3 separate regions of the Homo sapiens genome follow, and regions 1 and 3 are each linked to region 2. Evidence: fine-mapped expression QTL. A gene starts in region 2. Each other region holds a variant in brackets. All regions are shown on one strand. Distances are between the middles of the regions. Region 1 has its middle 19 kb from the start of PSMD13. Region 2 holds the start of PGGHG (protein-glucosylgalactosylhydroxylysine glucosidase). Region 3 has its middle 22 kb from the start of B4GALNT4.

Region 1 (5,247 bases), 33 kb before region 2:
CTGCACATACAGTAGACGGGCAGAATCCAGCACCAAGGACTAACGAAGACGCTGGTCCTATCTTTATTGTTAGTCAAGAGAGACCTAGGGGTATCCACTCCCTTCTCCAGCCCTCTCAGGTACCTGCCCCGACACAGGCATCCATCCACATCCTTGTCACCACTCATCATTCAAATAGCCACCAGCATCTGTGACCTGGTGTGCCCCAGTGCGGACATGAGCCATCCCTGGGACTGGGCATGTAAAGGAAACCACCTTGAGGTTCCCCGTCTGGGAGTGGAGGTGCACGTACACAAAGAATCACAGAGTGAACATTAGGTGGAAGGACAGTTTAATGTGATCTTTCAGTCCTGGGCCTGCAGTGACAGCATGGAGCTCTTGCAGCTCTCCAGGTCGGGTGAGACCCAGCCTCCAGGAACCAGGAAGCTGATGAATGTGAGAGCCCCACGGCCTGCTCCTGTTGGAGGAAAGCACCCACAAGTCTGCTAGGCTGGCAAAGAACAGTTGTCCGGCATCTTCTCCAGCCTTTTCCTCTTTGGTTGCTGGTGTCTGAGCTCCTGGTTTTTTCCACCTCGTCCAGGCCTCGCCTGACCTCATGGCCCCAGACCCCTCTCGGTCTTTCCACCCACCCTCTCCAGACCTCGTTTGGCCCTGGTCCAGATGGCCTGACACCCCAGCTGTTCCTCGTCAGTCACAATTGCTGGGATCTATTGACCACTAGCCTTTATACCCACCTCACTGTCAAGTTCCCAAGGCCCTGTGGTGCACCCTTCAACCTTCCGCAGCCCCTCTCAGCTGCTCAGGCCAAATGTCTTAGTGTGAGCCTCCATTTCCCTCAGACACTCATGTGTACATCGAGCCCGCTGACTCCCCACCCTCCCTAAGTCCAGCCTCAAACCTGTCCTCCATAACCGCTCCTCCACACAGCAGCCCAGACAGTCTTCCAGAACAATCAGGTCTTGTTGCTGCCGCTGCTCAGCATCCTCCAACAGGCTTCACTCACCCCCAAGGCCTGAGTGCTCTGACCACTGCCTGCCTTGCTGGTCCTGCTCCTACCCTCATCTGCTCTCCCTGCACCCCACCAAGGCTCCTGCCTCATCCCAGACATGAGCTGATCACAGCCCAGAGAGACACAATTCTGCATGCTGAAATCCCGAAAAATCAAAATTCTGAAAATATATTTCTGGAAAAAATAATTTTAAAATTATTTAAAAGATATTTATTTACTTTTTTTTCATTTTTTTATTTTTGAGACGGAGTTTCACTCTTGTTGCCCAGGCTGGAGTGCAATGGCACCATCTCCGCTCACTGCAACCTCTACCTCCTGGGTTCAAACAATTCTGCCTCAGCCCTCTGAGTAGCTGGGATTACAGGCGCCTGCCACCACACCTGGCTAATTTTGTATTTTTAGTAGAGATGGGGTTTCTCCATGTTGGTCAGGCTGGTCTCAAACTCCTGACCTCAGGTGATCCGCCCGCCTCAGCCTCCCAAAGTGCTGGGGTTACAGGCATGAGCCACCACGCCTGGCCATCTATTTACATTTTTAAAGGGGATTTATTTGAGAAACATAAAAACATGACATATGACAGAACACATCATAGGCCACTTCACACAATAAAATAGACAATAATAATATCCATGTTTCTGCAAGTGTAAACAGTCATACCAATGACAGTTATGCACAGATGAGCTGTATTCGTAAAGAAATGTGTTGAGAGGGGAAATGCATGAACACCTACCGCTCGGGTGGGAATTGCGTGCGCCCAGGTTCATAACTGCAGTCTTCCGAAAAGCCAGGATGAACAACCTACGCCTTCTAACAGGCTCAATCTAGAACCGCAACAGTTCACCACCACATAGCCAGTCACCAAAAAAACCAAGATCTAGAGAAATTTTTCACAAATGCAGATGTACAAAAAGGACATCTCTTCATTTATTGAGGAAATATCCCATTTTTACCTACACACACAGACAACATTGTGGTAATGCACTTCTGTGGAGTCAGTTTTGCAAAAAATGCCTAAAACAAATTAGAACACTGTATAAGTGTTCTAATTTATATCTTCAGTATTGAAATGATGCAAGGATAAAATGAGAGCATAGTGAACTGTAAAAAAATAATGCTGACAATTTATGATGATGAAAAAAGCTAAAAAAACTATACAGAAAATTCAACTTGAAAAAGCCATATATGTCGAATTTTCTGTGTAAGTCATATTACAGTAGATTATGGGCAACTATGCAGAGATATTCTGTAAGAGCTGGCAAACTTCCACGACCCCATTAACTATATTCTGAAGTCTTGCATCACAATGAATAGCTGTTTTTTTTTTCTTTTAGGACATGGCTTTCCTTGGAGAATACATTCAAATTCATTTTCTAAGTGGCGCTACTTTTTAAAAATTTCTATGATTCCTGTGATTGTGATTTTTGGAATTTTAAATATTAGAGATTTTACACTTTAGATATTTTGATCTTTCAGGATTTCAAGACTCAGGAGTGTGTCTTTCAGGATTATAATCCAAACACATCCCAGACACAGGGCACTCCCACCCTTCACTGGCGCCTTTGTCTGGACAGCCTTTCCCTCAGGTTTTTACTTGTTTCTTTAGATCATTTAGGCTTTGCTCAAATGACATCTCCTTAGATATATCTTGTTTACTCTCTGTTTTTGAAGCTGGAATGTAAGTCCCATGAGGGCAGAGACTCCGTTGTGTTCACCACTGAATCTTTGGAGCCTGGAGCAGTGTCTGGTTTAGCAGACTTTTTCAGTCAATGTTACATGGATGGATGGACAGATGGGCATATGGATATATGGATGGATGAATGGATGGGTGGATGGGTGAGTGGATGGACAACAGATGAGTGGATGGATGCATGGATGCATGGATGGATGGATGGATGGATGGATGGATGGATGGATGGATGGATGGTGGGTGGATGGATGAGTTTATGAATAGGTGGACGGACAGATGCACGGATGGATGGATGGATGGGCAGATGGGTGGGTGGGAGGAGTGGATGGGTGGATGGATGCAGGGATCCATAATGGATGGATGTGTGGATGGGTGGATGGATAGATGAGTGGATAAGTGGATGGATAGATGCA[TGGACGGAC/T]GGACGGACGGACGGACGGACGGACGGACGGACGGACGGATGGATGGATACATGGGTCGGTGGGTGGATGGATGAGTCAATGGGTGGATGAGTGGATGGGTGGATGGATGGATGGGTGGGTGGATGGATGGGTGGGTAGGTGGGTGGGTGGATGGATGATTGGAGGAGTTGTTATAAGGATGGATGGAGTTTCTATTGTATGCTGGGCACTGGGCTAGATTTGAAGGATACAAAGCCAAGTCAGACATGAGAGACAACTGTGGGGATTACACTTCTCCTTCAGAATGACCCACAGTATTATCACTGACAATGAAAAAGGCCACAGCTGAGTCCAAGCCCAGGAGCCAGTAGAAGCAGTAGGACATCTGACCCCACCTAGGCCCCCAGATTTATCCATGGTCATTGTCTGTACCTCCAGGCTTGGCTGTGGTCATCACCCTCACTATGGACAATCACGCCCCTATCTGTTTGTTTTGAAATGGTAAATTGGTGATACGAGCAAATTTCACTAGGAACATGATTTTACTTTTGTTCTTCCCCAGAAACCACATTTGTCCTAAATGTGAGACTACTTCCTAGGCTTTCCACCCCACCTTCCGGGTCCCTGGCCAGTCTTCATCTGACTTGGTTTCTCAAGCAGGAGCCAAGTCCTGTGAGGCCAGAGGAAGAAGGGTGTCCTGAATGTTATCTCCAGCAGTGCTGGGCTCCTGATACCAGCCTCAGGCAGTGGGGGGCTCTGCCCCTCCTCTGTAATAATCCCTTCCGCCTGAACCTTTAATTATAGCTTTGGGGTCCAGTTCTGGATAAGGCTGTGGACCTGAGTGCGTGTTCAAAGGATCAGTCTCCCAGGCTATGGTGTTTTGTCTTTTACAGATAAGAACTAGCTGCACCACCACCCAGGCTTGCCCCCGAGGGAGGCCTCCACCTCTGCCCTTTTTGGGCTTCAGTGGAGTGGGGGGTGCAGGTGGCGTGTGTGGGTGGGCAGTGGAGAGGCCCACTGTGCTTCAGGACGTTAGGCTTCCAAACAAGCCCCCAGCCAGCCCAGCCTTGGGTGGGTGATGCCCCCGATGAAGGCTGAGAGGAGGGAGCTGGCAGGGGTGGGAGCAGCGATGCCAGGAGGAAACACTGCCCTCCAGGAGAGAGAGGTTTTGTCGGCCTCCCTCAAGCCCAGATGGCCACGCCGTCCACAGCCTTCAACCTCTTCCCACCTGCCCACTCACCGGTCTTCCGACCTTTCTGACCTTTCCAAGCACAAACCTGTCCTCCTCACTTCACACTCACGCAGCTTCTACTTCTGGGGCCCCACAAAAGCAGAAGTGAGCTTTGGTCTTTATCCTAGCCTTGTTTTTAGTCCCCAGTTTGAACCACTTGTTCAAACCAAACCCTGTGGTTAAAGATCCTGAGTCCCCCACCCACAGCAAGGCTGCCCCAGATGGCCTCTCCTGTCATCATCCTGAGGCCTGGACCCTCTTCCCCGCCACCCCCAGGTCTGCCCTTTAATAGAAAGAAAATGATGTGACCCAGAGAGAAAGAGAAGGTGGCCAAGTGGGGCTGCAGGATGGAGATTAAGGCCCCACGTAACAGCTGGGGAAACTGAGACTTGAAGAGCATTCAGGGTTGCAGGCTCAGGGTTCCAGACTCATCCTGGCCCATCCTGGCTCATCCTGGCTCATCTTGGCTCATCCTGGCCCATCCTGGCCCATCCTGGCCCATCCTGGCTCATCCTGGCCCATCCTGGCTCATCTTGGCTCATCCTGGCCCGTCCTGGCTCATCCTGGCTCGTCCTGGCCCATCCTGGCTCATCTTGGCTCATCCTGGCCCGTCCTGGCCCATCCTGGCTCATCCTGGACAGGGGCAGCATCGGAAGGTGCGCTCAAGGCCGTGGATGGACAAAAGTAGTCCTGTTACCTGAATCTTCACCCTCACCTTCTTCAGCCACTCAGCACATACCTATCAAGCTTGCCCTGGACATACCCCTAACGCACCTGGGAGGCGGGAGGGAGACCAGCCACCACGCACACCCTCTCTCACAAAGCTGCAAGGCCACCTCGGCCTGCAGGACCACCTGGAAAGTCCGGTGGACACCTGTGGGCACATGGCACCACCCTGTGTCCAGACTTGGAACCACAG
Region 2 (5,140 bases):
ATCACTGCCCAGGGGAAATCCCCTACTATAATCCACTTTCTAACTCCATTTCTTCATTTCACAAAACACAAAAACCCCTGTCCTCCTAGAGCTGACATTCTAGGTAAGAAGACAAACACCTATATGATACACAGTGTAATACAATAAATATATATACGATACATACACAACACATATGTGATACACAACGCAATAGCACAAGTACGTATATTATATGTATACGTGTGCCAGGTGTGGTGGCGCATGCCTGTGGTCCCAGATACTCAGGAGGCTGAGGCAAGAGTTCGAGGCTTGAGCTTAGGAGTTCGAGGATGCAGTGAGCTATTAGGTTGGTTGGAAAGTAAGCAAAAACCGCAATTACTTTTGCACCAACCTAATATGATTTTGCCACCACACTCTGGCCTGGGCCACAGAGAGAGACCCCATCGCTAATAAGTAATAAATAAATGTGTATCTGATACATAACTACACACCACAATCAATAGGCCTGTGATGTGGCCGGGCGCGGTGGCTCAAGCCTGTAATCCCAGCACTTTGGGAGGCCGAGGCGGGTGGATCACGAGGTCAGGAGTTCGAGATCATCCTGGCTCACACGGTGAAACCCCGTCTCTACTAAAAATACAAAAAAATTAGCCGGGCGTGGTGGCGGGCGCTGTAGTCCCAGCTACTCTGGAGGCTGAGGCAGGAGAATGGCACGAACCCGGGAGGTGGAGCTTGCAGTGAGCCAAGATCGCGCCACTGCACTCCAGCCTGGGCGACAGAGCGAGAGTCTTTCTAAAAAAAAAAAAAAAAAAAAAAAAAAGGCCTATGATGCATCAACAAGTAACAATGTAATAAAGATTCAGAGGCGGGGCGGATAAATGCTGCGGAGGAAAGTTAGGCAGAACCAGGGGCTGGTGGGAATGGATGGAGCGCAGGGTTTCCTGTTGCATGAAACGGGGGTCTGAGGAAGTCTAACTGACGACTGGGCATTTGAAAACCCGAAGGAGTGAGGGGGCAAGCCCCAAAGAGGTCTTGAGAAAAAGGGCTTCAGGCAATTATGCTGCCAGAGCAAGCCAGGCGGGGAGCTTGGAAAGCTCCAGAAGCAGCAAGGAAGCCAGGTAGCGACAGCGGAGTAGGGGAGGGGGAGGAGATGAGGTCAGGGAACCCAGGCAGGTGCAGGAAGGGGTTTGCGGGTGGAGCTTGCGTGCTTGGAAAGCTCCAGAAGCAGCAAGGAAGCCAGGTAGCCGCAGCGGAGTAGGGGATGGGGAGGAGATGAGGTCAGGGAACCCAGGCAGGTGCAGGAGGGGGTTTGCGGGTGGAGCTTGCGTGCTTGGAAAGTTCCAGAAGCAGCAAGGAAGCCAGGTAGCCGCAGCGGAGTAGGGGAGGGGGAGGAGATGAGGTCAGGGAACCCAGGAAGGTGCAGGAGGGGGTTTGCGGGTGGAGCTTGCGTGCTTGGAAAGTTCCAGAAGCAGCAAGGAAGCCAGGTAGCCGCAGCGGAGTAGGGGACGGGGAGGAGATGAGGTCAGGGAACCAAGGCAGGTGCAGGAGGGGGTTTGCGGGTGGAGCTTGCGTGCTTGGAAAGTTCCAGAAGCAGCAAGGAAGCCAGGTAGCCGCAGCGGAGTAGGGGAGGGGGAGGAGATGAGGTCAGGGAACCCAGGCAGTTGCAGGAGGGGGTTTGCGCCGGGTGGAGCTTGCGTGAGGAGCGCTTTTGGATCGTCCTCCGTGAGTTGGGCGCCATGGCTGCCTTCTGGGCAGAGTGCAGGGCCTGCCTTAAATGTTGTGGGGGTTCTGTTCTCAACAAAGGCGTAAGTTGGGAGCGACTGAGCCACTCCAGGAGGAGGTGTGGGCCCACGGCGTGTTGGAGGTGGAGCCACAGGACCTGTCCATAGGTTGGATGCTGTGTGGGTGACAGAGAGAAACCGGGGCTCACGGCCTGGGCAGCGGGACGGGCGGAGTCGTCCTCACCTGTGCTGGGGACCCTGTGGGAGCAGCAGGCTTCCGAGCACGTGCTGGACCCCGGCGTCTCCGGCTGCACCGAGTGGTCAGGACATTGAGGCCGGGTCAGGGAGCGTGAGATACCGGGACGAGCGGGCCCAGGGCTGAGCCCAGCGGCGTCCGGGTGGGCGGTGGCGTTGAGATGGGAATTGGGAATTGCACCGGTGGTCTCAGGAGGATGGAAAACCCAAGCAGCAGCTGCACCAGGACCGAGGCAAAGGGACCGCAGTTTAACAGAAAACCCAAAACGAGAGCGAGAAAACGGCCAAACACCCGTGCGAGTGAGACGTCCATGAGCCTTCCCGGCAAAACGCCCAATAAGGGAGAAGGGGCAGGCGCGGCGGGGGCCGGGGTTCCCTGAAGTCCCCTTCGTTTCCAGAATCCCTAAAGATCATTCCGCCCCCCAGGGAGGAAACCCAAGCTCCGCCGAGCGCGGCGGGTCTGTGCCTTCGCTTCGCTTCCAGCCTCTCGCTTCCTTCTGACCCGACCCCGAGTTCTTTCTCCGGACGGTGTCGAGAACCCGGGCGCCGGCTGGGGCTGGAGTCTCGCTGGCCTCGGAGCGCCCCCGAGCCCTCGGGCGACAGCGAGGCGAGGACCCAGGTGGAGGCGGCCGGGGGCGCGGGCGGAGGGAGGAGGCGCGGGAGGGAACCCCCGGCCCGCGGGCCCCACCCACAGCCGCCCCGGGACGCAGCTCGGGGTCCAGGCTCGAGCTTTGCTCACTCAGGGCGCTTCGTGCAGGGAACGCCAGGCCCCCGGACGCGACCCACGCGGCCGCTGCCAGCGGGGACCGAGGGGAGCCGGGGCCGCGGCCGCGAGTCCACGTCCCGCCCCCGGGCCCGGCCCAGCGACCGCCCCCGCCGCCCAGGGACCGCCCCCGCCTCCCAGCGACCGCCCGGGCCCTCGGGGCGGGGACCGCGGACCTTCCTGGTGGCGCGGCAGCCGGGCGGCTCCTCCTTCCTCCCGGCCCTGGCGTGGAGCAGAGGGACACAGGTTCCCACGCTGGCGCCCGGCGACCGGGTGGGGCTGCGGTGAGTCCCAGAGGCCCCCGCCCCGCAGCTCCCGGCCGCCCCGGCCCGTCCCCCCAGCCCCCGGTCGCCCCATCCTCCCTCCCCCACCCGCGCCTGCCCCAGCCGCCTACACCCCCGAGACCCCCACCCGCCCGGCGCCCCGGCAGCCCCGGACTCCCTCCCCCATCCCGCCCAGCGCTCCCCCCACCCTCCACACACGCCCGCCCCCACGTGCCACCAACAGACGCAGGTCCCGACCACAGAGGGTGGGGGCAAGACCGGGGTTGTGGGGGGTGCGTTTGGAAAGCAGGGTTAGGACTGGAATTCTAAGGTAGCAGGAGGGAGAGACACACTCAGGGGCTCAGCTGGGTTCCTGGAGATCAACCTTTGGGGTCTGAGCCCCTCTGAGAGTCGAGCTCCTTTCCTGCGAGGCCCCGTCTAGGAGGGGCCTCAGGAAAATCGGGGCTGCCCAGCTGGTTCCGCAACTCCCCCCAGTTCTGAGGGAGGCTTCAGGGGATTACAGACGGTCTCAAGAGGGAGGCCCAGCCAGTCCCGCGGCCCCTGACACCCCATCAGGCCGCTCAGGCCCAGCAGCTCCATGGAGGACGCCGGCGAGGACCCCACCACGTTTGCTGCCCACTCTCTGCCCAGTGACCCCCGTCTCTTGGCCACTGTGACCAACGCATACCTGGGCACACGAGTGTTTCACGACACGCTGCACGTGAGCGGCGTGTACAATGGGGCTGGCGGGGACACGCACCGGGCCATGCTGCCCAGCCCCCTCAACGTCCGGCTGGAGGCCCCTGCAGGGATGGGGGAGCAGCTGACCGAGACCTTCGCCCTGGACACCAACACAGGTAGCGCCACCTGGCCTGCCTCACCCCTGCCCCAGGCATTGTTCCAGGTCGGTGGGGCAACCACAGCATCGAATCCCACCAGCACCTCCTGAGTTTACACAGGAAGTCTCACTAAGACAGGAGGCCCCAGAGGCCCGCAGGGTCCCCCCTTCCCTCCACCTGGAGGCCTCCTGTGCAGCTGTAGCGGGAACGAGCAGCCGAGGGCCCAGAGGGATCCGCCTCATTGTGGGGAGAGGCAGCGGTCGGGTGGTCCACTCCTGCCCCAGAGAGGCCATAGCTTGGCAACCCACCTGCCTTCGCTTCTGCCTCCCCAGGCTCCTTTCTTCACACCCTGGAGGGCCCCCGCTTCCGGGCCTCCCAGTGCATCTATGCGCATCGCACGCTGCCCCACGTGCTGGCTTTCCGAGTGTCCATCGCCCGCCTGGCCCCGGGGAGCGGGCCCATCACGCTGCTCCTGCGGTCAGCCTTCTCCCCAGAAAGCCCAGACCTGGACCTGCATCAGGGTCCTGACTTCCAGGGAGCCCGGTAAGGAGGGGGCTGGATTTGCAGCCAGGGAGTCCAGGGAGGGAGCTCATCCCTGAGGCATGGCCACGCTCTCACAGGTACCTGTATGGCCACACCCTCACCCCTGAGCAGCCCGGGGGGCCACAGCAAGAGGTACACATGCTGTGGACACCAGCACCCCCAGACCTGACCCTTGGGGAAGGTGAGGAGGCTAGGACGTGGGACTTCCTGACAGCAGTGGGCGGCAGCCAGGCTGAGGCTCAGGCCTGCCTCACTGAGGCCCTGCAGCTGCAGGCCAGGGGAGCTCTGTATACGGCTCACGCACAGGCCTGGGCCCAGCTCTGGGTAGAATGTGGCTTGGACGTGGTGGGGCCCCTGCAGCTGCGCCAGGCCCTGCGTGGCTCCCTCTACTACCTGCTCAGTGCCCTGCCCCAGCCCAAGGCCCCAGGATACATCTGCCATGGCCTCAGTCCTGGGGGCCTCTCCAATGGGAGCCGTGAGGAATGCTACTGGGGCCACGTCTTCTGGGACCAGGTGAGCACTGTACACCCAGCACCAGCCACACAGCAGGCGACACATGGAGGTCCACGGTCTCTGCCCTCCCTGGGACCAGGGCTATGGTTGGGGAAGCACAGGGACTGTGGCAAAAGGGAAGAGGCCTGGAAGGTGTGCAGGAGTTTGGTAGAGGAGTGATCTAGGTGAGGGGAATGGAAGGTGCAGAGACCAGAGCTGAGAGGGCCTGAGGCACTTTCCAGAGCGTGGGGAGGGGCCTCCACCAAGGCGAGAAGGGCTGCA
Region 3 (5,247 bases), 58 kb after region 2:
CAGCAATTCATGAATTGGGCAGCTCCAAACTGCAAGTCATTCAGGGCTCCCGGAAAACATTTACAAGGTACACATGGAAGCAAAATTTATAAAAAAAAATTGGGCCCGGCGCGGGGGCTCATGCCTGTAATCCCAGCACTTTGGGAGGTCGAGGCGGGCGGATCACGAGGTCAGGAGATCGAGACCATCCTGGCTAACACAGTGAAACCCCGTCTCTACAAAAAACACACACACAAAAAAAATAGCCGGGTGTGGTGGTGGGCGCCTGTAGTCCCAGCTACTCAGGAGGCTGAGGCAGGAGAATGGCGTGAACCCGGGAGGCAGAGGTTGCAGTGAGCCAAGATCGTGCCACTGCACTCCAGCCTGGGTGACAGAGCAAGACTCTGTCTCAAACAAACAAACAAACAAATAAACAAAAAATTGATTGGTTAAATTAAAGCAGTAGCTTCAAAGTCCTTAGTTTGAAGCTGCGTTTTCATGGTATCTAATGATTGTGTCTAGTTTGAAGTCATGTTAGGATCCAGCCATTCATGCTGAGTTGGGTTTCAGTTACCTTATCTAAGAACTCAGGGCACTGGGAGCGTCCTCAATCTAATGGCCTCCCAATTAATTATTTCAACATAATTTTCTGAGAAATCGGGTATCAATCTAATTCCTGTTTCATTGTAGGAGACCTATTTTTTCTTTCTGGAACTTTCTCTTTCTGGAACTTTTTCTTTGATACTCTTCAGTTTCACTGTGGTACATGAAAATGTAGGTTATTTCTTATCTCACCTCTTTGCAGCCTTTCGGTCTGAAGCCCTTCATCTTTCCTCAATTCTGGGAATGTTAGCTGTATTATTTATTCGGGTATTTCTTTCTCCCACTGCTTTTGGCTCCCCCTTCTAGAACATGGAATAGTGACAGGTATGCACCCCTCTCTCTTTCCCTCCTCTCAGCTCCGTGTTGCATGTGCCCTTTCTTTATTCTTCCACGATAATTCCTAGCACCATTCTCAACGGAGCTGGCGACGCAATGTCCACTCTTCAGTTGGGTCCATTGCCTTTTTATAATTCTGGCCGTCATAATACTATAAAAGCCAGCACTCCTTCTATCACAATCTGTTCGGTGGGGGAAAGGCTGTCACTTTCTTTCTTTCTTTTTTTTTTTTTTGAGATGGAGTCTCACTCTGTCACCCATGCTGGAGTGCAGTGGCGTGATCTCCGCCCACTGCAAGCTCCGCCTCCCAGGTTCAAACGATTCTCCTGCCTCAACCTCTCAAGTAGCTGGGACTACAGGTGCCCGCCACCATGCCTGGCTAATTTTTGTATTTTTACTAGAGACAGAGCTTCGCCATATTGGCCAGGCTGGTCTCAAACTCCTGATCTCAGGTGATCTGCCTGCCTCCGCCTCCCAAAATGCTAGGATTACAGGCGTGAGCCACCGTGCCCGGCCAAAGCTATCACTTTCTAAGTGCTTAACCTGTACCAAGCATGGTACTAAGTGCTTTACATATATATATTGAACACTCGTAACAACCTGCTGACATAGGTGCTGTTATTGGCCCAATTTTTCAGAAGGCAAAATGGAGACACAGAGAGAGGTTAGGCAATCTGCCCAATCTCACACAGCTGAAACACAGCAACAGGGTAGCGATCTGTGCCGGGAAGGTCGGCTGTAGGACCTGCGCTCAGTCATGTGCCACTTTGTTAGTCCACCTTTTGTATTATTTCTTTCCAGGTACTTAATATTGATTTTTTCTCTAACTTTTTATTTTGAAACAATTTAGGACTTACTGAAAAGTTGCAAGAACAGTACAGAGAGCTTCTGTACCTCCCTCACCCAGCTCCCACCACTGACAGCATCTTACATGACTGTAATATAATTACCAAAAGTGGGAAATTAACATTGGCACAGTGCTGTTCAATAAAGACCTTATTCAAATTTCACGGTTTTTTCACTAATGTCCTCTTCTGTTCTGTTCCATTTTGCATTTCATTGTTACTTCTCCCAGCCTCCTGCAGCCTGGGACAGTTCTTCAGTTTTTCCTTGTATTTCATGATCTGAACACTTTTATAGACTATCCACCAGTTATCTTGTAGAATATCACTCAGTTTGTGTTTGTTTGATGTTTTTCCATTTTGGAACGAGGTTATGCCTTTTTGGCAGTAATACTGCAGAAATGGGCTGGGCACAGTGGCTCATGCCTGTAATCCCAACAATTTGGGAGGCTGAGGCAAGAGAATCACTTGAGCGCAGGAGTTTAAGACCAGCCTGGGCAACATAGCAAGACCCCATCTCTACAAAAGAATTTTTAAATAGCCAAATGTGGTGGTGCATGCCTGCAGTCCAAGCGACTCAGTAGGCTGAGGCAGGAGGATCACTTGAGCCCAACAGGTGGAGGCTGCAGTTAGCCATGATCATGCCATTGCCCTCCAGCTTGGGTGACTGAAAGAGACCCTGTCTCAAAAATAATAATAACACAGAAATGATGTTTGGCGCGGTGGCTCACACCTGTAATCCCAGCACTTTGGGAGGCCAAGGTGGGCAGATCACGAGGTCAGGAGATCGAGACCATCCTGGCTAACATGGTGAAACCCCATTTCTACTAAAAATACAAAAAATTAGCCGGGCATGGTGGCAGGTGCCCGTGGTCCCAGCTACTCGGGAGGCTGAGGCAGGAGAATGGCGTGAACCCGGGAGGCGGAGCTTGCAGTGAGCCACTGCACTCCAGCCTGGGTGACAGAGCAAGACTCCATCTCAAAAAAAACAAAAACAAAACAAAACAAAACTTTACCAGGTGCACTCAAATGCAGGTTTCTTTGTTTTGGTGGGTTTTTTTTTTTTTTTGACAGAGTCTTGCTCTGTCACCCAAACTGAAGTGCAGTGGCACAATTTTGGCTCACTGCAACCTCTGCCTCCCAGGTTCAACTGATTCTCCTGCCTCAGCCTCCCCAGTAGCTGGGATTACAGGCATGCACCACCACACCTGGCTAATTTTTGTGTGTTACTAGTAGAGACAGGATGTCACCATGTTGGCCAGGCTGTTTTCGAACACCTGACCTCAGGTGATTCACCTGCCTCAGCTTCCCAAAGTGTTGGGATTACAGACGTGAGCCACCGTGCCCGGCCCTCAAATGCAGGTTTCTAATAACTTTGGAGATTGTGACATTAGAAAAGAGGGAAAAACTTTAGGACTCTCTTGGAGAGCTAAAATGTTCATGAATATCAAACAGGAGTTAACTGCATAGACTAAAGAAGTCTGA[AGCTAGCCAG/A]GCGCAGTGGCTCACACCTGTAATCCCAGCACTTTGGGAGGCCGAGGCAGGCAGATCATGAGGTCAGGAGTTCGAGACCATCCTGGCCAACATGGTGAAACCCCGTCTCTACTAAAAATACAAAAATTAGCCGGGCATGGTGGTGCTCACCTGTAGTCCCAGCTACTCAGGAGGCTGAGGCAAGAGAATGGCGTGAACCCCGGGAGATGGAGGTTGCGGTGAGCCAAGATCGCACCACTGCACTCCAGCCTAGACAGAATGAGATTCTGTCTCAAAAAAAAAAGAAGTCTGAAGTAATCTTTTTAACTTTGTTGAAAAGGTTGCTGATCTTTTGTTTTTCAGAGTCAAGAAAATTTTTCTGTTGAGCTATTTACAGCTTTTAGCAAATGAGTAAAGTATACTTCTGTAAACAAAATTCGGAGCGTATCTGTTTCTATCTGCCTGATTTGGAAACTATTTATATTCTTAATTTATGGCAATATAGTTATTTGCATAAGTGCAATAAGAATCTATTTTCTTTTGCAACAGGACACAATTGGAGAAATTGGTTATTTTACCAAGGCTTTGACTGGAATGGTGTGCTTTCTTTTAAGGAATGAAATTTGACTTGTAAAGTCAATAAAAGCCCTTGGGAAACTAGCCTCACACCTTGCCTGCTCAGTCCCCGGACAAGGTTTCTGATCTGTAATAAGTAAGAAATGTCACTTTCTTTCTTTTTTTTTTGGAGATGGAGTCTCTGTTGCCCAGGCTGGAGTGCAGTGGCGCAATCTCGGCTCACCACAACCTCCGCCTCCCTTGTTCAAGCGATTCTCTTGCCTCAGCCTCCCAAGTAGCTGCGATTATAGGCATGCACCATCACGCTTGGCTAATTTTTGTATTTTTAGTAGAGACGGGGTTTCACCACGTTGGCCGGGCTGGTCTCAAACTCCTGACCTCAAGTGATCCGCCCACCTCGGCCTCCCAAAGTGCTTGGATTACAGGTGTGAGCCACAGTGCCTGGCTAAGAATGTCACTTTCTAAAAGGTCTAGGAGCCCCAGGTTATCTTGGGACCCCAAGAGGAGAGGAATTTACTCAACTCACAGATATTTGAGGGCAGAAATCCATGGCAGGGCTCAGCTCTAAAAAAGTCTTATCTAAGATTCCTTCTATGGAACAGAGTTCCATCAAAGCCAATTTAAAAAAAAAGCTTATCTAAAAAATAATTATTCTTGCTGCCCTTTATACAAATAATCAGGCCAAGTGTAATAAAGCAAATTGGTCATACCATGATTTGTCTTTAGTAAAAATAGGAAACTAGAGAGAAAAAAGTTATATTTCAAGAACTATGGTACATGTGTTATTAAATTCTAGTCTCATCAGTTGTGTTGTTTGCATTTAGTGAACTTAATATCTGACATGCATTATTTGGACCAAATTTTTAAATTTTTGAAGCTATTTCTATTTTACCAATAATCTTTAAAACTGTCTTTATTTCCCAAAGATTATTTAAGTCACATGAACTAAAAAGCATTGCACTTTTAACTTTTCTGACAAAATTTTTTATTTAAGCTCTTATTATTAAACCAATTAATTAAAGCTCTTTTATATTCCACACACAACATGTACAAAAACACAGACAAACAGAAGTTAAAGACCCATCCCCTAAGCTGGGAATTGAACCCTGAACCCGGGCCGCCATTATGATGGCAGAAACCAAGAGAAAGTACGGCCACGTGGTTACAAGGCCAAGGTCCCAAGGACATGACGGACCAGAGGGAAGCCTCGTCCAGTTTACACACACACACACACACACACACACACAACACACACACCCCCACACACACCACACACACACCACACACACACCACACGCACACACACACCTCACACACACACACCACACATACCACACACACCCCACACACACAACACACACCCCCCACACACACACACCACACACACACCACACACAAACACCACACACACACCACACACACACCATACACACACACC

Evidence for each region. PIP is the estimated chance that this variant, and not a neighbour inherited with it, causes the effect.
Region 1: its variant is fine-mapped to the expression of PGGHG in monocytes (BLUEPRINT, PIP 0.94).
Region 3: its variant is fine-mapped to the expression of PGGHG in aorta (GTEx, PIP 0.96).

What each region holds. Positions count from the first base shown.
Region 1 is chr11:253,102-258,348 of GRCh38, forward strand. It overlaps the pseudogene COX8BP. Among named protein-coding and RNA genes, the nearest start is that of PSMD13, 19 kb to the left of the region's middle. RefSeq lists an enhancer at 4,467-4,967 and a silencer at 5,184-5,247. The variant TGGACGGAC/T (reference allele first, on the strand shown) is at 3,110.
Region 2 is chr11:286,235-291,374 of GRCh38, forward strand. It overlaps PGGHG (protein-glucosylgalactosylhydroxylysine glucosidase), which reads left to right and starts at 2,892. Exons shown (of 14, transcript NM_025092.5): 1 at 2,892-3,005; 2 at 3,570-3,841; 3 at 4,156-4,366; 4 at 4,444-4,879. The coding sequence starts at 3,583. RefSeq lists enhancers at 1,539-2,068, 2,069-2,598 and silencers at 2,482-3,011, 3,022-3,081.
Region 3 is chr11:344,478-349,724 of GRCh38, forward strand. No RefSeq gene overlaps it. Among named protein-coding and RNA genes, the nearest start is that of B4GALNT4, 22 kb to the right of the region's middle. The variant AGCTAGCCAG/A (reference allele first, on the strand shown) is at 3,246.